Linked DNA regions of Homo sapiens: regions 1, 2, 4 and 5 are each linked to region 3. Evidence: fine-mapped expression QTL. A gene starts in region 3. Each other region holds a variant in brackets. All regions are shown on one strand. Distances are between the middles of the regions.

Region 1 (5,105 bases), 57 kb after region 3:
CTGGCCCTCAGAGTCCCCCACAACTTCACCTTCTACAATGGCACACATTCTCCTGCAGCATCTGTCTCCCCCATGTGGAAAACTCTCTTTTAAGCTTCAGTTTCTGCTGCCTCTACCCTCCATGTTAACAGTCCCAGCTCCTGGGAGCAGGGACACATTGTCCCAGGACATGTGTAAAATGCCACAGGGGCCTCTGTGGTTGTCCCTGGCTCAGAAGCTCCCCCAATGCTGTCAGCTGTTGGTGGGGAGGGCGGGAGCAGATGATGGGAAACCGGACTGCCTGGGCGCCGGGCAGGCGCCCCTGGGAGGGGTTGCTTGTGGCGCAGGCCCCCAGCCTCGGCCTGCCTGGCATATGCTGTTAGCAGTGCATTTGTTTTCTCAAGTCCTTTGGAGTCAAGAACCTCAAGCGCGTGGGGATCATACTTCAGAGAGGGGTCCTCATCCTTATGCTGTGCTGCTTTCCCTGCTGGGCCGACTTGGTCAACACCGAGCGCATCCTCCTGCTCTTAAAACAAGACCCGAAGTCTCCAGGTGAGGTCCCCTGTTTCCCAATCCTAGGTTAAGAGTAAGTGGCTATCTGGTCATTGTACCTGTGTGGACATTTTCGGCCAATTACATGGTCTTGATCCCTTTCAAAAATGAAAGCTGGCCAGGCACAGTGGCTCACGTCTGTAATCCCAGCACTTTGGGAGGCCGAGGCAGGTGGATCATCTGAGATCAGGAGTTCGAGACCAGCCTGGCCAACATGGTGAAACCCCGTCTCTACTAAAAATACAAAAAAGTTAGCCAGGCGTGGTGGTAGGTGCCTGTAATCCCAGCTACTTGGGAGGCTGAGGCAGGAGAGTCACTTGAACTTGGGAGGCGGAGGTTGCAGTGAGCCAAGATCGTGCCATTGCACTCCAGCCTGGGTGACAAGAGCAAAACTCCGTCTCAAACAACAACTACAACAACAACAACAACAACAACAACAAAATGAAAGCTGTGACTGTGGGCCACAGGGTCTGGGGGCTGCAGGGACCACCTGACTCAGGGTGACAAGATACAGGACCAGGGTGTTGTGTGCCTGGCCTGTCTCCCGTTCACCGAGTCCCTCCATTTTGCTGTCTGGCAAATGCAGAAAATATTTTTCCCCTGAAGTAGAATAGCAGTGTAATCGCCTTCACGTATGACTTTAGTGTTGGGTTTTTTCTTTAACCTATAATTCCAGTGTATTCTCTGGTATTGTCCTTGGGGTGCGTGGTCCTTTCTAGAAGACTGTCTCGCTCACTGTTAGGTGACCCTGACACTTTCCAATGGTTTCTGAATTTTGCCCAAGTTTTAGTTTTCATGCTAAGAATGAGCTGAAAAATGGAAAGTGGTCAGACTGCCCCTTAGATAGCAGACATTTAGTAGACTTAGTGTCATGTTTGTGTAGGTTGAAGAAAAACACTTAAAAGTTGTTATTAAGTTTCTCTCATTTTTAGGCCGGGTGTGGTGGCTCACGTCTATAGTAATCCCAGCACTTTGGGAGGCTGAGGCAGGAGGATTGCTTGAGCCCAGGAGTTTGAGGTTACAGCGAGCTATGATGGTGCCATTCTACTCCAGTCTGGGCATCAGAGCAAGACCCTGTCTCTAAAAAGTAAATAATTTTTAATTTTAATTTTTAGAAAATACTCTGTGGGTTCAATTTGAAGACAATATGACCAGCAACTGTTTTAATATTAACTGAAGACTATTTTGTTTGTTTCAGGATAGCCCAAATTTATGTGCTGATTTTCATTCCTGCCCTTCCTGTAAGTTTCAAGGCTGTTGTGTCTCACTACATGAAGCAGCTCACATGTGTCGCCCTGCACATGCCCCTTCCCCCGGCTCTTGTTTCTCCATCTTGGTGCAGTTCATGCCAAAAGCCCGACATGTATTTCTTGGCCCTGTCGTCCCTCCCTTGCTGACTCTCAGGACATGTACCACTCTGGTGTACAGTAGCTTAAATTAAAGACAAAGATTGGGCCGGGCACGGTGGCTCATGCCTGTAATCCCAGCACTTTGGGATGCTGAGGCAGGTGGATCGCGAGGTCAGGAGATCGAGACCATCCTGGCTAACATGGTGAAACCCCGTCTCTACTAATAATACAAAAAATTAGCCGGGCGTGGTGGCGGGCACCTGTAGTCCCAGCTACTCGGGAGGCTGAGGCAGGAGAATGGCGTGAACCCGGAAGGCGAAGCGTGCAGTGAGCCCAGATCGTGCCACTGCACTACAGCCTGGGTGACTGAGCAAGACTCTGTCTCAAAAAAAAAAAAAAAAAGACAAAGATTGATGAGGGGAAGACATTTCCTTCCTGATTCCTTGTTCTATGGTTATTTTTGATTGCAAATCAACCAGAATGTTTCTGGATCATCTAGGATTTGGGGAGTGCTGCATTCGGGCACCCTCGGAGCCGTTCGAAATGTCAAGACGGTGGCTTCTGCCTCAGCCAGTTGGAATCGGCCTGTGTCAATTCTTCAGGGAGTACATCTTTTATCCACTCTGGAAAATTCCAAATAGTGCCCTAGCATTGTCTCATGTGAGTGAGGTTCTCTGAGATCATACATCAAGGGGAAGTGTCTTATTTAAGATTAAAAACC[G/A]GAACTAAACTAAACCGTTGGAATTTATATTAATGAGAAGTGTTTGTTTTTCTGTTTAAACTTACAGGCAGCATTCTTGTTCCAGCTGCAGACAAGATATTTACAAAGTCAGGTATAGATTCTTTTTACAATTTTTACTCCATAATCCTGGAAATGTCTAGTAAATATTCGTAGGGAATGTTCTATAACAGTAATTCACATTTTTCCCCCTGTAATTCTACCTTAGAGTTCTTTGCCTGAGAGATTGAGGCCTTGTAGGTGAATTTTGTCTAGCCCAAGAGAGACGGCTGTATCAATCCATCCCATTCCCCTTTCAATCACCACCACCTGCTTCGACCCCTGCCCCGACCCCTCCCCTCTCTTGGGGCTGGTGCCAGCTTTGCATCTGGCCTGGGGCCTGGCTCCTGTGCTTCTGCTTTAGAGAGGAGGGCCTGGGGTCCCTACAGCCACTAGGGAGCAGCGAAGGAGTCTGAGGGCAAGATTTGGGTGGACAGTGGAGAGAAGCAGAGCTCTGCCTCCCCGGGTCCCTTCTCGCCCATCTGAGGCCGCAGCCCTCTTGCCTTACCCAGCTTTGGTAACAGTCAGCTCTCTGTTTCAATGCAGGAATGAAAGAGAGGTTTTACTGAAAGAAAATGTTTGAATAGACAGGATAAACAAAAGAAATGAGTGACTGGCGCCTACAACAATAGGGTGAACATGTTCTGCACACCTGCTATGAAGCAGGCATTGCTGGGTGTCTTGTATGCAAGAACTTTAGCAACTTGGCACAGATATCTTCCAAGCTGCCTCTCCTTCACTTCATGCCAGGGCCCATTTGCCCTTCAGGAGGTTTTTTCTCTCTGCTGCTCTTCTGGAAACCATGACCTACCAGGTTATTCAGAAGCAGTTGCAAGCTTCTGGTTGGGATAGGCAGATAATGCACCAACGGAGGAGACTAATCTGGTCATCTCAGCTCCTGACCATTCCAGTCCTGAGTAACTTTGCCATCATTTAAACTGTTCCCTGTTTAACTGTGAGTGTTCACTTGATAGGCTAGCTAATTAGCTTTCGAAAATGTGAATGTTTTCCTATTTGTTTGGGGGTTTTAGGGCATCAGCATGCCTCAAGTTATTACCAGGATTGCAGCTAATGTCATCAACGTGGGCATGAATGCCCTCTTGCTGTATGCCCTGGACTTCAGAGTGGTGTAAGTCACGACCCCTGAATTCAACACATACTGAATGTCTGCTGTCTGCTGTCTCCTGTCCCTGGGACTGGGGATAGCGAGAGTGAAATCGTCTGGTAGAGGGAATATGGACAGGTGGACAGGCAATAGAGTTGGGTGTTCAGGTGGTCTGTGTGCCAGATGAGAACTGGGTGCCACAGGACCTCACAGGAGAAGCAGCTGGCTCAGGCTGTTGGAAGGAAGGTCAGTGGGTTAGTGGGTGGAGAGATAGGGATGGTGCCTGGGAAGAAGCGATGTGTAAGCTGATTGTGTGTTGAGGTGGAATTCGCCTAGAGAAGGGAGTTGCTGTGGTCTGTGAAGGCTGAAAGGGGCCACCCCAGCAAAGACAGAGTAGGGCAGACACCTTAGGGATTCTCCTAGCATCTTGGAATTGTAAGAAACTGAGCCCAATTGCATCCTTATGAAGCTTGAGGAGATGAGGGTCCCAGAAAGAAAACACTATCAATTCACTGGTCCCTCACTGGGGGACACTTCTGTGCCTAGAGCCAGAGCCAGGCTCCTCAGTGTGGCCAGAAAATCTTTAAAGGCTGGCTGAAGATGGAACATAAGAACACATCAGTGAAACACACCTTCTGTCAGAAAGCTGGACGAGGCACTGGCCCGGGAAGCTGGAGTCCCACAGGGAGGTGTGAGCACCAGTTGGTTGACCCATGTCCAGAAACAGGAGGCCTGGGCCACCCAGGTTCTCCTGGGAGGTGGACCTCAGAAAGCGTCTCTTAGAGGTTTCCCCAACAGATGTACACAGGGAAGCTTGGGGATAGCGGGGAAAAGGAGAAGAAAATTTAGGAATGGATTAACAAAGGGTAAAATGGAGGATTGGGTAGGGGAGTGGAATGGAAAAATAGACAGGAAGACAGAGTCCCTGGCTCTGTATGCCAGAGCGGGGCATGGTTCTATTTGTTGTGATAAAATATGACCTATGGAAGACACTCCATGGTTATTTTCCAATACAAAGATGTTGAGCATCTTTTCATATATTTGTTGACCATTTATATATCATCTTTGGAGAAATGTCTCTTCAAGTCTGTTGCCCTCCCTTTTCTTAAATCAGGTTACTTCTTTTTTTGTTGTTGGGTATAGGAATTTTGGTTGTTGTTGTTGTTGTTATTGTTTTGAAATGGAGTCTCGCTCTGTTGCCCAGGCTGGAGTGCAGTGGCGCAATCTCGGTTTACTGCAACCTCCGCCTCCCAGATTCAAGCGATTCTCCTGCCTTAGCCTCCCGAGTAGCTGGGATCACAGGTGCCTGCTACCACGCCTGGCTAATTTTTTGTATTTTTAG
Region 2 (5,105 bases), 100 kb after region 3:
CTCTACAACAAAACCACACGTCTGTAGTCCCAGCTACTCAGGATCTGAGGTGGGAAGATCACTTGAGCCCAGGAGTTCGAGGCTACAGTGAGCTCTGATCACACCACTGCACTCCAAAAAAAAGTTTTTTTTCCAGAAGATTATGTATGTACGTATGTATGTATGTATGTATGTATTTAGAGACAGGATCTGGCTCTGTCTCCCTGGCTCAAGCAGTGGCATGATCACAGCTACTGTAGCTTTGATCTCCTGGGCTGAAGCGATCCTCCCACCTCAACCTCCCATGTAGCTGGGACTACAGGCGTGTGCCACCACTTCTGGCTAATTTTTTTTTTTAGTTTTAGTAGAGATGAAATCTCGCTATGTTTCCTATGGTGGTCTTGAACTTCCGAGCTCAAGAGATCCTCCTGCCTTGGTCTCCCAAAGTGCTGGGATTACAGGCGTGAGCCACTGTGACTGGCCCTAGATTTTATTGAAGTAAAATTCATATAACATAAAATTAACCCTTCCAAAACATTTTTATCATACCAAAAAGGAAACTCAGATTATTAACCTCTCACTCCCCATACCCCTCTCCCTGAGTTCCTGGCAACCACTAATCTGCTGTCTGTGCCTGTGGATTTACCTATTTTGGATGTTTCATAATGAAGGAATCATAGAACATGTGACCTTTTGAGTCTGGCTTTTTGAACTTGGCATGCATGATGGTTTTGCAATTCCTCTATTTTTTTTTTTGAAACAGAGTCTCATTCTGTCACCCAGGCTGGAGTGCAGTAGCACGATCTCAGCTCACTGCAACCTCCACTTCCCAGGTTCAAGCAATTCTCCTGCCTCAGCCTCCTGAGTAGCTGGGACTACAGGTGCGTGCCACCATGCCCGGCTCATTTTTGTATTTTTAGTAGAGACGGGGTTTCACCATGTTGGTTAGGCTGGTCTTGAACTCCTGGCCTCGTGATCCACCCACCTCGGCCTCCCAAAGTGCTGGGATTACAGGCATGAGCCACCATGCCTGGCCCGCGATTCCTCTATGTTGTAGCATGTCTCTCAAAACTTGATTCCTTTTTCTGGCTGAATAGTTTATTGTGTGATATGCCACCTGGTGTTTATTAATCAGTTGATGGACTTTTAGATTGTTTCTATGTTTTGGCAATTGTGAATAATGCTGTAGTAAATACTCGTGTACAAGTTTTTGTTTGAACACCTGTTTTCGCTTCTTTTGAGTCTATACCTAGGAGTGGAATTACTGGGTTATATGATAATTCTATTTTTTTTCTTTCTTTCTTTTTTTTTTTTTTGAGATGGAGTCTTGCTCTGTTGCCCAGGCTGGAGTGCAGTGGCGCGATCTTGGCTCACTGCAAGCTCTGCCTCCTGGGTTCACGCCATTCTTCTGCCTCAGCCTCCTGAGTAGCTGGGACTACAGGCACCCGCCACGATGCCTGGCTAATTTTTTGTATCTTTAGTAGAGACAGGGTTTCACCATGTTAGCCAGGATGGTCTCAATCTCCTGACCTCATGATCCGCCTGCCTCGGCCTCCCAAAGTGCTGGGATTACAGGCGGATAATTCTATTTTTTTTGAGGAACTGCCAAAATGTTTCCCATGGTGGCTGCACCATTCTTCATTGCCACCAGCAGTGTATGAGGTTTCCAGTTTCTCCACATCCTTGCTAACACTTGTGATTTTCTTTTTGATTTTAGTTATATCATACTAGTGGGTGGGAAGTGGTGTCTCATTGTGATTACTAGAGATCACATACTACTAATAATGCCAAGCCTATTTTCTGAAATACTTCAGAAACTCAGATACACATAAAGAAAGGAATTATGTACTAGAAAAGGAATAAATGAAGGTAAAATATTTTATCCTTCTTATTTTTAATTGATAAAAAATATATGAAAATAATAGCAACAATGTATTTGGTTATTACAGCTTGTGCATAGCTAAAATGAATGACAACAGTGTTATAAGGGTCAAGAGGGAGGAACTGAGAATATTCTAAGGCACTTGCATTACCCATGAAGAAGAATAGTGTTATTCAAAAGTGGAATTAGGTTAGTTGTAAATGCATATTGCAAACTCCAGGACAACTAATGAAAAAGTTTTTAAAAAGTAATATAATCAATATGCTAAGAGAAGAAAGAAAATAGCATCTCATAAAATGCTCAGTTAAAACCACAATGGAAGAAAAAAAGTAACAAGGACAACAAAGAGAAAAGGTGGGCAGGGCGTGGTGGCTCACACCTGTAATCCCAGCACTTTGGGAGGCCGAGGTGGGCAGATCACGAGGTCAGGAGATAGAGACCATCCTGGCTAACAAGGTGAAACCCCGTCTCTACTAAAAATACAAAAAATTAGCCAGGCGTGGTGGCAGGCGCCTGTAGTCCCAGCTACTTGGGAGGCTGAGGCAGGAGAATGGCGTGAACTCGGGAGGCGGAGCTTGCAGTGAGCTGAGATC[G/A]CGCCACTGTACTCCAGCCTGGGCAACAAAGTGAGACTCCGTCTCAAAAAAACAAAAAACAAAAAACAAAAAAATAGAAAAGGTAACATATACAGATACTAATCTCACTATACCAATAATGACACCTTTTCTTTGAAAAAAAAAAAAACACTTAATAAAGTGAGAATAGAAGGAAAGCTCCTCAAAATGATAAAAGCCATATATGACAAACCTCCAGCTAAGATCATACTCAATGGTGAAAGACTAAAAGATTGTCCCCTAAGATCAGGAACAAGACAAAAATGTCTGTTTTCCCCACTTCTATTCACAATACTATTGAAAGTTTAAGATGGTGCAATTAGGCAACAAAAAGAATAAAAGGCATTTACATTGGAAAGGAAGGAGTAAAATTACCTGTGTTCAAAAATAACATGATCTTATATGTATAAAACCCTTAACATTCCACAAAACCATTAGACTCAATTAACAAATTCAGAAGTCACAGGATGCAAATCACAACACACAAAATGAGTTGCATTTCTATACACTAGCAATGAATGATCCCAAAAAGAAATTAAGAAAACAATTACATTTTTAATAGCATCAAAAAGAATCAAATGCATAGGAATAAATTTACCATGGAGGCAATAGACTTGTACACGAAAAACTATAAAACATAATTGAAAGAAATTAAAGAAGACATAAATAAACGGAAAGACAATCCATACTCATGCATATGAAGACTTAATACTGTTAAGATAACAATATTACCAAAAGTGATTTAAAGATTCAATGCAATCTCTATCAAAATCCCTAAGACATATTGCAGAAATAGAAAAATCCACCCTAAAACACATATGGAATCTCAATGGACCCAAATAGCCAAAAATGTCTGACAAAGAAGAACAAAGTGAAAGGACTCAGATTGCTTGATTCCAAAACAAACTACAAAGCTACATAATCACAGTGTGGTATTGGCATAAAGACATGCCTATGGACAGAATTGGGAATGCAGAAATGAACCCTTGCATATATGGTCAAATGACTTAAACAAGGGTGCCAATACCATTCAATGGGAAAAGGAAAGTCTTTTCATCAAATTGTGCTGGGAAAACTGGATATCCACATAGAAAAGAATGAAGTTGATCCCCTATTTACGATATATAAATATTAGCTCAAAAGTGGTCAGTCTGGGTACAGTGACTCACACCTATAATCCCAGCACTTCGGAAGGTCAAGATGGGCTGATTGCTTGAGCCCAGGAGTTCAAGACCAGCCTGAGCAATATGGCAAAACCCTGTCTCTACAAAAAATACACACACACACACACACACACACACACACACACACACACACACACACAAAAGGTGTGGTGATGTGTGCCTGTAGTCCCAGCTACTCAGGAGGCTGAGGTGGGAGGATCACCTGAGCCTGGGAGGTGAAGGCTGCAGTGAGTTCTGATTGCACCACTGTACTCCAGGGTGACTGAGTGAGACCCTATCTCAAAAAAAAAAAAAAAAAGTGATCAAAGACCTAAACATAAGACCAAACACTAAGCCTGCCAGAAGAAAACATAAGGGGAAATCTGGATTTGGCAGCGATTACTTGGATATGCACAAGCAACAACAACAAAATAGATAAACAGGACTTCATAAAAATTAGAAACTTTTGTGCATAAAAGGACACTATTAATAATATAAACAGGTAACCTTCTGAATGGGAAAAGGTATTTGCATAGTATATATCTGATAAGGGATTTATGTTCGGACATAAATTCTTAACAACTCACAAGAACAAAATATACAAACAGCCTAATTCAAAACTAGGCATATGGCTGGGGATGGTGGCTCACACCTGTAATCCCAGTACTTTGGGAGGCCGAGGCAGGTGGATCACTTGAGGTCAGGAGTTCAAGACCAGCCTGGCCAACATGGTGAAACCCCATCTCTACTAAAAACACAAAAATTAGCTGGGCATGGTGGCAGCCACCTGTAATCTCAGCTACTCAGGAGGCTGAGGCAGGAGAATCACTTAAACCTGGGAGGCGGAGGTTGCAGTGAGCCAAGATCACGCCACTGCACTCCAGCCTGGGTGACAGAGCGAGACTCTGTCTCAAAAACAAAAAACAAAAAAACTAGGCATAGGACTTGAACAGACATTTCTCCAGAGAAGATACATAGCTAACCAGGGCATGAAAATATTCTCTCTGCATCACTAGTCATTAGGGAAATGCAAATCCAAACCACAATGAGATATTACTTTATACCTATTATAGGGGTCATTACAGAAAGAAAACAGAAAGCAAGTTTTGGTGAGAATGTGGAGAAATTGGAACTATTGTACATTGCTGATGGGAACATAAAATGGTGCAACCACTATAGAAAATAGTATGTGAGATCTTTAACAAATATAGAATTATGATATGCTGCAGGGACTCAAACAGATATTTGTACACCAGTGTTCACAGCAGCATTACTCACAATAGCCAAAAGGTAGAATCAACCCAAATGTCCATTTTGTAAATGGATAAACAAAATGTGGTATACTTACAATGGAATATTAATCAATCTTAAAAAGAAATGAAACTCTGATATATGCTATAGCATGGATGAACCTTAAAAACATTGTGCTAGGGCTGGTGGTGTTGTGGCTCTTGCCTATAATCTCAGCAC
Region 3 (5,105 bases):
TCCCATTCCCTAGATGAGTACTGATTAGACTAGGGATATGATTGAAATAGAAGACAGAATTTTAACGAGGTGCATTCTTTCTGAATAAATCTGCAGATATAATGCAATGTCAATCAAAATCCTAACACTTTCCAAGTAACAGGGTTCTTTGTTCTTTTAATTGTTTTGTTTTTTGTTTTTTATTGAGATAGGGTCTCACTCTGCTGCCCAGGCTGGAGTGCTGTAGTGCAATCATAGCTCACTGCAGCCTCAAACTGCGGGGCTCAGTCGATCCTGTCACCTCAGCCTCCCAAAGTGCTGGGGCTACAGGTGTGGGCTACTCACCTGTACAATGTGCTCAGCCAACCACACGTTGTTTTAAAAGCTATTTACCAGCCAATAGAGCTACTTCTTTCCTCCTTACTTTTCTTTTTCAGAGTTTTTGTTATATCTTTTCCTGTTTACACTATCAATTGCTTTTAGAATCATTCTATTAAATTTTAAAATAATGGAATACACAGTAGTGGACTAAAACCTAATATATTAATTGAAAATTAATTTTCCTGTGCTACTTTTTGGAAGGAAGTCACTGTGTACAATCCACCTTTAAGGAGTGAGGAGTTATGCTCTGTATCACGAGGACCTTTTGTTTTTTGTTGCTATTGTGAAAGATTTCTTTTAGTATTTTCATATATGTTATTACCAATATAAAGGACTGATATGACTTGTTGAAGAACTTCTATGTAGCAACTTTATTAAACCCCTTTATCAATTCTATTAGCTTTTGTTCATATTTTATTTCTTTGGGTTGTGTGGATTTTTTTTAAGAGATGGGGTCTCACTGTGTTGCCCAGGCTGGTCTCAAAACTCCTGGGTTCCAGTGATCCTCCCACCTCGGCCTTCCAAAGTGTTGGGATTATAGGCATGAGCCACTGTGCCTGGCCCGGTCTGTCAATTTCTACTGTGAGTAATCCCTTTGCCTTTTCTTTCCTAACATTATACATTACATTTCCATTTCCTGTCTTATTACATCAGTCAGGACTTCCAGAAAATTATCAAAAAACAGCAGTGATCAGAGATCTAGTGAATATCCTCGGGTATTTGTCTGTTGACACTCTCAGTTCTTTTGGGAAACTGCGCTACTCCATATGTACAGTCCTTGTGGGACGAGACCAGTCACAGGGCACCTAACCCTAACCCTGTAGGTTCAAAGCTGGGTGCATGGTCCAGGGCCAGCCAAACATCAGACCCTATTTTCCCACCCAGGGCGATTGTTCCAGAGGTGGGCAAGAAACCTAAGCAGGGCCAACCAGATTTTCTCCCAGTTTTTTGTTTGTTAGTTTGGAACCAGAAGAGAGGAGGGGAGGGCCTTACTTTCTGGTTTAACAGACGGGAAAGATAGGAACGAGGGTATCAGAGGCCACCACTGTCACTTGCACAGGAAGAGAAAGGCTGCCGGCAGAGGAGGAAGAGAAACTACGGAAAGAATCCCAAGGGGCGAGGAGAAGGGAGGAGAGGGACAGAGATGGGAAGAGGGACAACAAGAATGATCTGGTTTTGTTTTTTTTTTTTTTTTGAGTGGAGTCTCCCTCTGCCACCAGGCTGGAGTGCAGTGGCGAGATCTCGGCTCACTGCAACCTCTGCCTCCCGGGTTCAAGCAATTCTCCTGCCTCAGCCTCCCTAGTAGCTGGGATTATGGCGCGCGCCACCATGCACAGCTAATTTTCGGTACAGACGGTGTTTCACCATGTTGGCCAGGATGGTCTCGATCTCTTGACCTTGTGATCCGCCCGCCTAGGCCTCCCAAAGTGCTGGGATTACAGGCGTGAGCCACCGCGCCTGGCCTAATGACCTTGTTTTCAAATCCCTGAATCCAAACTTCCTGATTATGTGAGCCAAAAAATTTGTTTTCCATTTTCTCTACTTACATTGGATCATTACAACGGAAGGAATTTTGACTATTAGAGAAATCAATCTTGTCCTGGTAACTGACACTTATTAGGTAACGGCTGGTGCCAGGCTGAGGGCAGGTGGCACTGACTCCGGTCCTCCGCCCAGGCAACCCCAGTCTTCACAGCTGGCGACGAGTGTTCTTTCACGTTTGCAGATGAGGAAGCTGAGGCTCTGGGAGGAAAGCGCGCTGCTCCTGCCCTTCTGGGCCGCAGCCTCTCGTACTCCCACAGCAGGCTTGATGGATAAACTTCCAACACGACCAGCTGGCACAAACTGTGCTACTTGGCAAATGGGAGCATGTTGCTCTATCCTGGTAGATTCTAAGTTCTCTAATGGAACAACTGATGAGAGGAGAGGAGTATGCAACACCCTAACCAGCATCAAAGGGTGTACCCAACTCAATCTGCACAGCAAATGCGCCCAACCCCACACACCCCGCGGGGTGCTAACCGAGTCACGGCTCGAGGCCTCTGGGTCCTTCCACGCCAGGTCATTCAGAACCTGAAACCCCCAGCGGAGGTGGAGAGCCGGGGTGAGTCCTGGCGTCCGAGACGTGGAGGACCCAGCCCCCGGAGCGCGTTCCGTTAGTTTACAGAGCTTTTTCAAACTTTGCCTTCCAAGTGCAGGAGTTCCTTGGTCTTTGCAAGACCCGCAGGCGTCCGCAGTGGTGCAGAGAGAGGTGCAAGGGGCGCGCCCAAGGTCGCAGGCTGCCTGGCTGCGCGCTCAGTCGGGCCCCCGGGCGCCAGGCGCGGGGCGGGCTCTGGGCGGGCGGCCGGGGCGGGGACTGCAGAGCAGGCTGCACTGCGCGGTACCCACTGCCGGCCTGCGCGGTACTCACTGCCGGCCTCCGCGGTACCCACTGCCGGCCTCCGCGCTACCCGGCCGCAGCGCGCGAGTCACATGGAAGCTCCTGAGGAGCCCGCGCCAGTGCGCGGAGGCCCGGAGGCCACCCTTGAGGTCCGTGGGTCGCGCTGCTTGCGGCTGTCCGCCTTCCGAGAAGAGCTGCGGGCGCTCTTGGTCCTGGCTGGCCCCGCGGTGAGTAAGGTGGCCTCAGTGGCAGGCCGGTACCGGCGGGCTGGGGACCTGGTGATTTCTGCCTCCGCGGGTGACTTTGGCGGGCTTTGGGGACCGAGCGAGCTGTCCGCCGGCGGGCTCCGGGGAGCATCGTGCCAGGAGCCGGGCGGGCACCCCAGCTCCTCTGCCTGCGTCCCGGCCGCTTTCCGCTCCGCACCACCCGACTGGGGGCCCCGCGGGGCACTGCGGGAACGGCTGGTACGCGCCCGGGCGCATGTTGGCTCGGAGAGGCCGGCGGCTCCAGCCTCCTGCGCCAGGAGACACCGGAGAGCTGGGACCTTTGCCCCTAACGGGGCTCTACCAGGTCCAGGCTGCATTTGCATCCGGGGGTGCCTTCTCTGGGAGCTGATTCCGGCCAATAAAACGCAAGTTGCCTGAACTTCAAAACACAAGGGAACTTGTTTCTTTGAAAAGTAGCGGTCAAAAGTTCGGGAGCTCTGCGATCTAAATAATCCCGAGGCACGGAGGAGGGGGTGCGTGGTCTGTCGTGGACTCAGAGCTGCGAAATGATTTCTTCAGAATTCAGTCAACCTCTACCGAGGAAACCAGAGGCATCCTGTACCACCCCCTCCCCGCCAGTAATTATGTATGTGAAAGAAAAAAGGGGTTTTAATGTGGTTCTTTGTGGGGTCGAGGTGTTCTTATCTGTGGGATTCTTTTCTTTTTAATCATTAGGTTAGGGCTGTTTCTGCCTTGTCTCCTAAAAATAATGTGGTTTTAAAAACCACAAAAACACAATCCTATCCACGTTCTCCTGCCAGCTTGGGTGGTTTTCAAACCGAGAGGGTAGGACGCGGCACAAGAAGCAACTGGTATGCACTTAAGGCGTGAATAAGCTTTTGACTTTGAGGCCCACATTCTGCACCTGCGCGGGCTGAGGGGGGCCGCTGTGCCTCTGGAGTGGGGGCTCGGTAGTTTGTGGGATATTGTGGCACCCGCTGTGGTGTGCAGGACAGCAAGGGTAATGCCGAGGTCAAAGCCATGGAATAAGATCCATCAGCCATGCTTTCTCACAGACCAGAAAGAACTCATGATTTGGGGCTGGGCGCGGTGGTTCACGCCTGTAATCCCAGCACTTTGGGAGGCTGAGGCAGATGGATCACTTGAGGTCAGGAGTTCGAGACCAGCCTGGCCAATATGGTGAAACTCCGTCTCTACTAAAAATACAAAAATTAGCCAGACGTGGTGGCGGGCGCCTGTAGTGCCAGCTACTCCAGAGGCTGAGGCACGAGAATCGCTTGAACCTGGGAAGTGGAGGTTACAGTGAGCCAGGATGGTGCCACTGCACTCCAGCCTGAACAACAGAGTAAGACTTGGTCTCAAAAAACAAAACAAAACAAAACAAAAACACCTCATGGCTGGGCGTGGTGGCTCACGTCTGTAATCCCAGCACTTTGGGAGGCCAAGGCAGGCGGATCACGAGGTCAAGAGATTGAGACCATCCTGGCCAACCTGGTGAAACCCCGTCTATACTAAAAATACAAAAAATAAAAAATAAAAATTAGCTGGGCATGGTGGCAGGCGCCTGTAATTCCAGCTACTTGGGAGGCTGAGGCAGGAGAACCGCTTGAACCCGGGAGGCGGAGGTTGCAGTGAGCCCAGATCGCGCCATTGCACTCCAGCCTGGGCAAAAAAACACCTCATGATTTGGAATCTCAAGACCTGGGGCTGCGTGCCCTGCTTTGACCTCCGAAAGTAAGTCAGGAAGCAGCTGTGCAGATTGAAACAGCCTCCTAACCTCTTCTGGTCTCTGCATATTCATTTGTAAAATGGAGATAATAATCATGTCTTGGTTCAACACTCCCTCACAGAGCTGCTGTGAGAAGGGGCTTTCTAAGGCTATTATTGTTTTATTATTATTATTATTTTTTGAGACAGGGTCTTGATCTGTCGGCCAGGCTGGAGTGCAGTGGTGTGATCACAGCTCACTGCAGCCTCAACTTCTGGAGTAGCGGAGATTACAGGCACACACCACCATGCCTGGCTAATTTTTGTATTTTGGGTTAGAGATAGGGTCTCCCTGTGTTGCCCATTGCTTGAATTCCTGGGCTAAAGCAATCCTCCTGCCTCGGCCTCCCAAGAGCTGGGATTATAAGCAT
Region 4 (5,105 bases), 160 kb after region 3:
TGGAGGAGAGAATACTTCCAAACTCATTCTGTAAAGCCAATGTTACCCTTACACAAAAGCCAGATCAAGATAACAAAAAATAAAAATTACAAATGTTCCTCATGAACACAGACTCAGAATTTTTAACAAAATATTAGCAAACCAAATTTAGTAATATACAGAAAATATATACACCATGATCAAGAGAGGTTTATCCGGGCCAGGCGCAGTGGCTCATGCTTCTGATCCCAGCACTTTGGGAGGCCGAGGCAGGTGGATCACGAGGTCAGGAGATCAAGACCATCCTGGCCAACATGGTGAAATCCCATCTCTACTCAAAGTACAAAAATTAGCCAGGTGTGGTGGTGCGTGCCTGTAATCCCAGCTACTTGGGAGGCTGAGGCAGGGGAATTGCTTGAACCCGGGAGGCAGAGATTGCAGTAAGCCCAGATTACGCCACTGCACTCCAGCCTGGCGACGGAGTGAGACTCTGTCTCAAAAAAAAAGAGGTTTATCCCAGAAATGCAAGGTATAACACCTGAAAATCAATTAATACAAAACAGCATATTAATAAAGAACAATTAATGCAAAACACCATATTAATAAAGAACAAAACCACATGATTATCTCAATAGAAGCAGAAAAAGCATTCCGCAAAATCTAGCACCCAATTATGAGATATCTCAACAAACTAGGAATTAGAAGGGATCTTTCTCAACTTGAAAAAGGGCATTTAGGGAAATGCTACAGATAAAATTTAACACAGAAAGACTGAATACTTCGAATACTTTCCCCTTAATAGTGGAATCAAGGCTCAGATGTATGCTCTTTACACTTGGATTCAACATTGTACTGGAGAGCTGGGCACAGTGGCTTACACCTGTAAACCCAGCACTTTGGGAGGCTGAGGAGGGTGGATCACCTTAGGTCAGGAGTTGGAGACCACCCTGGCCAATGGTGAAACCCCGTCTCTACTAAAAATAATAATAATAATAATAATAATAAATAAATAAAAATTAGCCAGGCACGGAGTTGCGTGCCTGTAGTCCCAGCTACTTGGGAGGCTGAGGCAGGAGACTCGCTTGAACTTGGGAGGCGGAGCTTGCAGTGAGCCAAGATCGCGCCATTGCTCTCTAGCCTGGGCGACAGAGCGAGACTCCGTCTCAGAACAAAACAAAACAACATTGTATTGGAGGTTCTCCCCAAATTGGAAAGCAGAAGTAAAAGTGTCTATTCACAGATGACATGATCCTACATGTAGAAAATCTTAAGGAGCTCAGACACACAAACTATTAGAACAAGGTCACAGGATAAAGGATCAATAATCAAAAAATCAATTGATTTTTTATAAACATGAACAATCTAAAATGAAATTAAGAAAACAATTTCATTCACAGTAGCATCCAAAGAATAAAATTCTTTGGGATAAATTTAACAAAAGAAGTATAAGATTTGTCCATTGAAGACTATAAAACATTGCCGAGATAAAGAAGTTCTAAATAACTAGAGACATTCTGTGCCCATGGATTGGAGGCCTCAATATTGTTAAGATGACAGTTCTGTCCAAATTGATCTATAGATTCAACACAATTCTTTTCAAAATCTCAGCATGCTTTTTAGTAGGAATTGATAAGCTGATTCTAAAATACATACAAAAATGCAAAGGACCTAAAAGAGTCAAAAGAGTTTGGGGACAGAAAAGAACAGTTGGTATATTAATAGTACCTGATTACAAAACTCCCTGTAAAGCTACAGTAATTAAGACTGTCACAATGGCATAGCATAGACATAAATCAATGGAACGGAATTGTGAATTCAGAAGTAAACCACTACATTTATGGTCAGTTGATTTTCAACTGTGTTTCCAAGAAACTTAGTACTGGAGAAATGAGTCTTTCATGTGCTAACAAATGGTGCCAGGACAATTGGATATCCATATGTAAAAAATGAATTTAAACCCTTACCTCATATTATACACAAAAATGAACTAAAAATGGATCAGAGGCCAGGCGCTGTGGCTCACACCTGTAATCCCAGCACTTTGGGAGGCCAAGGCGGGTGGATCACGAGGTCAGGAATTCGAAACCAGCCTGGCCAACATGGTGAAACCCCATCTCTACTAAAAATACAAAAATTAGCCGGACGAGGTGGCACACACCTGTAGTCCCAGCTACTCAGGAGGCTGAGGCAGAAGAATCGCTTGAACCCGGGAGGCAGAGGTTGCAGTGAGCCCAGATTGTGCCACTGCACTCCAGCCCGGGTAAAAGAGCAAGACTCCATCTCAAAAAAAAAAAAAAAAGGATCATAAACCTAAATGTAAGAAAGACTTAACATTAAAACTTTTTAAAGAAAACAGAGGAGAAAATCTTTGTGACCTTGGGTTAGGCAGAGTTCTTATATATAAAATAGCAAAAGCATGAGCCATAAAAGAAATTAAGAAATTGGACTACATTGAAAGTGAAAACTTTTGCAACTCAAAAGATACCATTAAGAAAATGATTCAGTTAGACAGGAAGAAAAAGTTTAAGAGACCTACTGTACAACATGTTAACTATTGTATACTTGAAAATTGGTAATAGTATATTTTAAATGTTCTCACCACAAGAAAATTAGAATTATGTAAGGTAATGCATATGTTAATTAGCTTGATTTAGCCATTTCACAATGTCTAAACATAGTGAAATGTTTACATATATACAAACATAGTGGCTGGGTGCATTGGCTCATGCCTGTAATCCCAGCACTTTGGGAGGCTGAGGTGGGAGAATGGTCTGAGCCCAGGAGTTCTGTAGTGAGCTATGATGGTGCCAACTGCACTCCAGCCTGGGCAACAGAGTGAGACCTGTCTTAAAAAAAAAACAAAGAACAAAAAAAAAAAACAG[C/CA]AAAAAAAAAAAAAAGAAAAAATGTATACCATAAATATATTTATCTGTGAATTTAAAAAATAAAATTTAATTTAAAAAGATAAGCCACAGCCTGGGTTTGCAAATCATAAAGCTTGATAAAGGACTTGTATCCAGAATATATAAAGAACTCTTATAACTAATAATAAATGTTATGGGTTGAATTGTGTCTCCCACAAAAGATACTGAAATTCCTTTTTTTTTTTTTAAGGTGGAGTTTCGCTCTTGTCATCTAGGCTGGTGTGTAATGGCACAACCTTGGCTCACTACAACTTCCACCTCCCAGGTTCAAGCAATTTTCCTGCCTCAGCCTCCTGAGTAGCTGGGATTACAGGTGTGTGCCATCACGCCCAGCTAATTTTTGTATTATTAGTAGAGATGGGGGTTTCACCATTTTGGCCAGGCTGGTCTTGAACTCCTGACCTCAGGTGATCTGCCACCTCAGCCTCCCTAAGTGCTGCGATTACAGGTGTGAGCCACTGTGTCTGGCCAAAAGATGTTGAAATTCTAACTCTCAGTACCTGTGAATGTTACCTTATTTGGAAATAAGGCCTTTGCTGATGATCAAGTTAAGATGGAGTCATTAAGGTAGGCCCTAATCCAATATGACTGGTGTCCTTATTAAAAGAGGGAATTTGGGCCTGGTGCGGTGGCTCACACCTGTAATCCCAGCACTTTGGGAGGCCGAGGTGGGCAGATCATGAGATCAGGAGATCAAGACCATCCTGGCCAACATGGTGAAACCCCATTTCTACTAAAATACAAAAAAAAAAAAAAAAATTAGCCAGGCAGAGTGGTGCGCACCTGTAGTCCCAGCTACTTGGGAGGCTGAGGCAGGAGAATTGCTTGAACCCAGGAGGTGGAGGTTGCAGTAAGGCCAGATTGCAGTACTGCACTCCAGCCTGGCAACATAGCAAGACTCCATCTCAAAAAAAAAAAAAAAAAATAGAGAGAATTTGGACAGAGACAGACATGGAAGGAAGACTTGAAGAGACAGGGAAAAGATGACCATCTACAATCCAAGAAACCCCTGAGGCTACCAGAGCTAGAAGAGAGGCCCAGAACAGATCCTTCTTTAGTGCCTTCAAAGGAAGTATAAGTATGACCCTGCTGACACCTTGATTTAGGATATCTGGTCTCCAGAACTGTAAGACAGTAAATTTCTGTTATGTAAGCCATCCAATTTTTGGTACTTTGTTATGGCAGTGCTAGTGTCTTAGTCCATTTTGTGTTGCTATAACATAATACCCTAGACTGAGTAATTTATGATGAACAGAAATTTATTTGGCTCACGGTTCTGGAGGCTGGGAAGTCCCAGATCAAGTGACAACATCTGTTGAGGGCCTTCTTGCTGTATCATCCCAATGCCTGAAGGGCAAAAGAGCACACAAGAAAGAGGGGAAGGGGGCCAGACTCATCCTTTTGTCAGGAACCGACTCTTGAAATAACTAACCTGCTCTTAAGATAATGACATTAAGGCCAGGCGTGGTGGCTCACGCCTGTAATCCCAGCACTCTGGGAGGCTGAGGCGGGCGGATGACGAGGTCAGGAGTTCGAGACCATCCTGGCTAACACGGTGAAACCCTGTCTCTACTAAAAATAAAAATAAAAAAAATTAGCCAGGTGTAGGTGGTGCATGCCTGTAGTCCCAGCTACTCGGGAGGCTGAGGCAGGAGAATGGCATGAACCCGGGAGGTGGAGCTTGCAGTGAGCTGAGATCGTGCTACTACACTCCAGCCTGGGAGACAGAGCAAGACTCCGTCTCAAAGGAAAAAGATAATGACATTAATCCTTCTCTTAAAGGTCCCACCTCGACAGGGCACACTTTGGGAGACTGAGGCAGGAGGGTTGCTTGAGGCCAGGAGTTCAAGACCAGCCTGGGTGACATCATGAGACTTTGTCTCAAAAAAACAAAAAGACAACCAAAAAAAGTTCTATCTCTCAACACTGTTACATAAACATATGAACTTCGGAGGACACATTCAAACCAAAGCACTTAGCAAGCAAATACAACCAGCTACCAAATATTATATTTTCATATTTTTAAAATTTGTTTTATTTATTTTGTAGATTGAGACAGGGCCTTGCTCTGTCACCCAGCCCAGAGTGCAGTGATGCAGTCATAGCTCACTGCAGCCTTGAACTTCTGGGCACAAGCTATCCTCCCACCTCAGCCTCCCTAGTAGCTGGGACTACAGATATGCACCACTATGCCCAGCTTTTTTT
Region 5 (5,105 bases), 29 kb after region 3:
CACCAGGTGTGAGGCATGAGGCTGCTTCTCTGCACGTGTTCTCGCTCTGCAGTTTCTCACTCATTGTTGCAGGTTTCCTTTTTATTTTAGGTCCCTGCAGGCTTCAGTGTGGCTGCCAGTGTCCGGGTAGGAAACGCTCTGGGTGCTGGAGACATGGAGCAGGCACGGAAGTCCTCTACCGTTTCCCTGCTGATTACAGGTGCTGAGACCCCTTTACCCGAGGCTCTTGGTGCAGTCTCTGCATGCAAAACCCAGGCTCCTCCACTTCCTGTGGATCTTCTTGTTCACTGTGTTGTTTCTTCTGCCGTTTTTACCTTCAGTGCTCTTTGCTGTAGCCTTCAGTGTCCTGCTGTTAAGCTGTAAGGATCACGTGGGGTACATTTTTACTACCGACCGGTGAGTGCTAGGATTTTCTTGAAATGTGAAATCTGTGATAAAGAAATGGTTCATTGAGAAAATTTGTTCTCTAAAATCAGGCTGTTCAGAAACATTGCTGTTTGAAATCATATCAGTAAAAAGAAAACATCTCACTCACACCTGTAATCCCAGCACTTTGGGATCACCTGAGGTCAGGAGTTCAAGGCCAGCCTGACCAACATGGTGAAACCCTATCTCTACTAAAAATACAAAAATTAGCTGGGTGTGGTGGCAGACACCTGTAATCCCAGCTACTTGGGAGGCTGAAGCTGGAGAATCTCTTGAGCCCAGGAGGCAGAGGTTGCAGTGAGCCGAGATTGTGCCACTGCACTCCAGCCTGGGCAACAGAGCAAGACTCCGTCTTAAAAAAAAAAAAAAAAAGAAAGAAAGAAATGGTTCCTCCAAGAGCAAGATGCCAGCAGAAAAAGTTTTTTAAAACTAGGAATTTTTTTTAAAAAGAGGCCGGGCACAGTGGCTCACGCTGGTAATCCTAGCACTTTGGTATGTCAAGGCTGGCAGATCACCTGAGGTCAGGAGTTCGAGACCAGCCTGGCCAACATGGTGAAACCCCCATCTCCACTAAAAATACAAAAATTAGCTGGTCATGGTGGCACACGCCTGTAATCCCAGCTACTCAGGAGGCTGAGGTGGGAGAATCACTTGAACCCAGGAGGCAGAGGTGCCAGTGAGCCAAGATCGTGCCACTGCACTCCAGCCTGGGTGACAAGAATGAGACTCCATCTCAAAATTTAAAAAAGAAATGGTTAAATTGGATAGATGCTATCATAGAGGCCACCTATGGTTGTTGCAGCAGGGATGTCTGACTCATTTGCAAGATCAGAGGCTCGGCCGGGCGCGGTGGCTCACACCTGTAATCCCAGCACTTTGGGAGGTTGAGGCGGGTGGATCACAAGGTCAGGAGATCAAGACCATCCTGGCTAACACGGTGAAACCCCGTCTCTACTAAAAATAGAAAAAATTAGCTGGGCGTGGTGGCGGGCGCCTGTAGTCCCAGCTACTTGGGAGGCTGAGGTAGGAGAATGGCGTGAACCCGGGAGGTGGAGCTTGCAGTGAGCTGAGATCCCGCCACTGCACTCCAGCCTGGGCGACAGGGCAAGACTCTGTCTCAAAAAAAAAAAAAAAAAAAAGATCAGAGGCTCCACTGATGTTACTTGGGAAGAACATATTAGATGTAGGAACTGATGTATAATCTACAGTGCCAACTTAATGGGCATTGGTAATGATTTTATGCTTCTGCTGGTCATGTATTTTAAAGGTGGAAACCCCTTTTTAGTACGATTAATTACATTTTCAGTTAATTATTTTGTTTCCAGTGATAAGAATCCTCTTGGTTTCTTAGTATCGGCCAAAGTGCCCGGTTTGTAGTAGTTGCATAATATGTTTGTCAAACTGAATTGAAGTTAAAATCTCACCAGTGAGCTGTCTCAAAAGTCATATTCTCAGATTGATTACTGAAGAATTCTTGGATAAGTCCCCTCTGCTCTGCAGAATTTGTTTCCTTCATCAGCGATGCTAGTGTGTACATTCGGACTATATAGAAAC[T/A]TCGTGGGGGTACTTCTTATTTGGACACCTTTGTCAGCAGTTACAAAATGCAAATGGACTTTGCCTTCCTGGATTCAGAAAGCTGGTGGAGCGGACAGAACTAATTTCATGGTTTATTCTTCACACATTTGACTTTTGACTTCAGATCGTAGGTTTTCATTTTTCAGCTTCAGCTATTTTGTTATGGGGAAATAAGATGTTTAGGCCAGGCACGGTGGCTCACTCCTGTAATCCCAACACTTTGGGAGGCTGAGGCAGATGGATTGCCTGAGTTTAGGAGTTCAAGACCAGCTGGTCGACATGGGGAAACCCTGTCTCTACTAAAAATACAAAAAAAATTAGCTAGGCGTGGTGAGGCACGCCTGCAATCCCAGCTACTCAGGAGGCTGAGGCAGGAGAATCACTTGAACCTGGGAGACGGAGGGTGCAGTGAGCTGAGATTGTGCCACTGCACTCCAGCCTGGGCAACAGAGTGAGACTCTGTCTCAAAAAAAAAAAAAAAGTTTATAACTCCCTCACTCAGAATGAGTGGGGAAGGCGATGGCAAATAGTTGGCTTTTCTCACAAAGGGAATCAGGATGAACTTTATGAGGACCAGGATAAATGGATGGTTTCAGAAGGAATATAGTAGAAGCTGGACTCTGAATCTGTCCACTTGGGAAACCATACAGCCCAGGAAAAGAATGAAAAACAAGAGGCCCACAAACTATAGAACTGACGAGATGAGGAAACATCAGAAACTCAACAATCAAATTACTTGTAAGGTGGCCAGGATCAACCCAACCTGGTAGAATCGGTGAAAGAGATGAACCTCTACCTAACTTAATCACAGGGGGCGGGAAACGGCACCTCTAACAAATAAAGGGGGACGTTACTACTAAACACAATCATTTTTAAAAATCCTAAGAGACTACTTTGCACAACTTTTTCCAAGGAAATCTAAAAATGTGGAATAAACAGATAATTTTCTAGGGAAATAATTGATCAGTATGTACCCTAGAAAAGATAGAAGGTCTAAATAACTGATTTCCTGTAAGAAATAAGAGAAAGCTTTTTTTTTTTTTTTTTTTTTTTTGACGGAGCCTCCCTCTGTCGCCCAGGCTGGAGTGCAGTGGCATGATCTCAGCTCACTGCAAGCTCTGCCTCCCGGGTTCACGCCATTCTCCTGCCTCAGCCTCCCAAGTAGCTGGGACTACAGGCGCCCGCCACCACGCTCGGCTAATTTTTTGTATTTTTGGTAGAGATGGGGTTTCACCGTGTTAGCCAGGATGGTCTCGATCTCCTGACCTTGTGATCCGCCCGCCTCGGCCTCCCAAAGTGCTGGGATTACAGCCATAAGCCACCACGCCCGGCCGAGAAAGCTATTTTAAAATGTCAAAAAGCACAATCCCAGAAGGTTCCAAAGGATAATTTTATAAAATCTTCAAAACATGGGGAATTGCAAACATAGATAAAACAGAAAATTTCAGAGCACAGGAAAAGGAAAACTTTGCATTCTGTTTATGAAGCAAATATAACATTGGTGCCAAAATCTGACAAAGTTTGCACATAAAAAAGAAAGAAAATCACAGATCACTCTTATGTATTAATATGAATTTAAAAATCCAAAATAAAATGTTATTAGACATAGGCTGGGCGCGGTGGCTCACGCCTGTAATCCCAGCACTTTGGGAGGCCGAGGTGGGTAGATCACGAGGTCAGGAGATCGAGACCATCCTGGCTAACATGGTGAAACCCTGTCTCTACTAAAAAATACAAAAAATTAGCCGGGCGTGGTGGCACGCACCTGTAGTCCCAGCTACTCGGGAGGCTGAGGCAGGAGAATGGCGTGAACCCGGGAGGCGGAGCTTGCAGTGAGCCGAGATTGAGCCACTGCACCCCAGCCTGGGCGACAGAGCGAGACTCCGTCTCAGACAAAAAAAAAATGTTATTAGACAGAATTTAGCAGCACATTGAAAAGAATATATTTGGGTGAAATATAAAAGTGAATATAGGCCAGGCGCGGTGGCTCATGCCTGTAATCCCAACACTTTGGGAGACTGAGGCAAAAGGATCACTTGAGCCCAGGAGTTCAAGACCAGCCTGGGAAACATGGCGAAACCCCATCTCTACAAAAAATAAAATTTAGCTGGGCATGGTGGTGTGCACCTGTAGTCCTAGCTACTCAAGAAGCTGAGGTGGGAGGATCACTTGAGCCTGAGAGGTTGAGGCTGCAGTGAGCCATGATTGCATCACTCCACTCCAGCCTGGGTGACAGTGAGACCCTGTCTAAAAAAAAAAGTGAATATAATATCTCAGGTGGAAAAAGCAAGGTGCAGAACATCATATAGAGAATGCTGCATGTGAAATGATAGAATATAGAAAGGAAAATTAAGAATATACATTTGTATTTGCTTATATTTTCATAGACACTAGACAAACATGGAACGTGCTAGGAATTGTTACCTGGAGGAGGCAGGGCTGGTACTGGGGCAAACTGGAAGGGCATTGCAGTAAGACTTTGCTTACTATCTTGTTCATATTGTTCCATTTTTTGACCATGTGCATGTTACCTATTCAAAAAATAAAATTTGAATAAAATAATTATATTTCTGTCCTTTTTGGTGAGGAGGAAGTGATCATCTTGTTCAGTGCTGGATTTCTTTTCTTTTCTTTTTTTTGAGATGGAGTTTCGCTCTTGTTGCCCAGGCTGGAGTGCAATGGCACGATCTCGGCTCATCGCAATCTCCGCCTCCTGGTTTCAAGTGATTCTCCTGCCTCAGCCTCCCGAGTAGCTGGGATTACAGGCATGCACCACCACACCTGCTAATTTTGTATTTTTAGAAGAGATGGGAGTTCTCCATGTTGGTCAGGCTGGTCTCGAACTCACCACCTCAGGTGATCTGCCTGCCTTGGCCTCCCAAAGTGCAGGGATTACAGGCATGAGCCACCACTCCTGGGCCAGTGCTGGATTTCTTATTTAGTAATTAAACAAGTATTTATTGGGAGACAGTCTTCTAGGTTCTAGTTTAGAGTGACAAAACTCACTCCAAGGGTGTTGTGAATTTCCTGCTTCCCCAGGTCAGGGCAGCATTTTTCTCATCTCCCTTCACATGCAGAGGTTAGAATCCAAGTCTCTAGCTTTA

Alleles and levels. Positions count from the first base shown, and alleles are read on the strand shown. Sizes are in standard deviations (SD) of each study's normalised expression. Not every link is listed here.
As copies of C replace CA in region 4, the expression in monocytes after LPS of the gene that starts at base 2,747 in region 3 goes up (large effect, 1.0 SD a copy in Fairfax 2014).

The links.
Region 1: its variant is fine-mapped to the expression of SLC47A1 in whole blood (TOPMed, PIP above 0.99).
Region 2: its variant is fine-mapped to the expression of SLC47A1 in whole blood (TOPMed, PIP above 0.99).
Region 4: its variant is fine-mapped to the expression of SLC47A1 in monocytes after LPS (Fairfax 2014, PIP 0.95).
Region 5: its variant is fine-mapped to the expression of SLC47A1 in iPS cells (HipSci, PIP 0.95).

What each region holds. Positions count from the first base shown.
Region 1 is chr17:19,588,076-19,593,180 of GRCh38, forward strand. It overlaps the pseudogene SLC47A1P1. Among named protein-coding and RNA genes, the nearest start is that of SNORA59B, 33 kb to the left of the region's middle. The variant G/A (reference allele first, on the strand shown) is at 2,602.
Region 2 is chr17:19,634,423-19,639,527 of GRCh38, forward strand. No RefSeq gene overlaps it. Among named protein-coding and RNA genes, the nearest start is that of ALDH3A2, 12 kb to the right of the region's middle. The variant G/A (reference allele first, on the strand shown) is at 2,455.
Region 3 is chr17:19,531,108-19,536,212 of GRCh38, forward strand. SLC47A1 (solute carrier family 47 member 1) reads left to right here and starts at 2,747. Exons shown (of 17, transcript NM_018242.3): 1 at 2,747-2,967. The coding sequence starts at 2,833.
Region 4 is chr17:19,692,654-19,697,758 of GRCh38, forward strand. All of the region lies in intron 13 of SLC47A2 (solute carrier family 47 member 2), which reads right to left. Among named protein-coding and RNA genes, the nearest start is that of SLC47A2, 21 kb to the right of the region's middle. The variant C/CA (reference allele first, on the strand shown) is at 2,862.
Region 5 is chr17:19,560,098-19,565,202 of GRCh38, forward strand. SLC47A1 (solute carrier family 47 member 1) reads left to right here. Exons shown (of 17, transcript NM_018242.3): 11 at 91-199; 12 at 321-396. It overlaps LOC105371578 (a long non-coding RNA gene), which reads right to left. Exons shown (of 3, transcript XR_934310.4): 2 at 4,426-4,532; 3 at 198-428. Among named protein-coding and RNA genes, the nearest start is that of SNORA59B, 5.1 kb to the left of the region's middle. The variant T/A (reference allele first, on the strand shown) is at 1,981.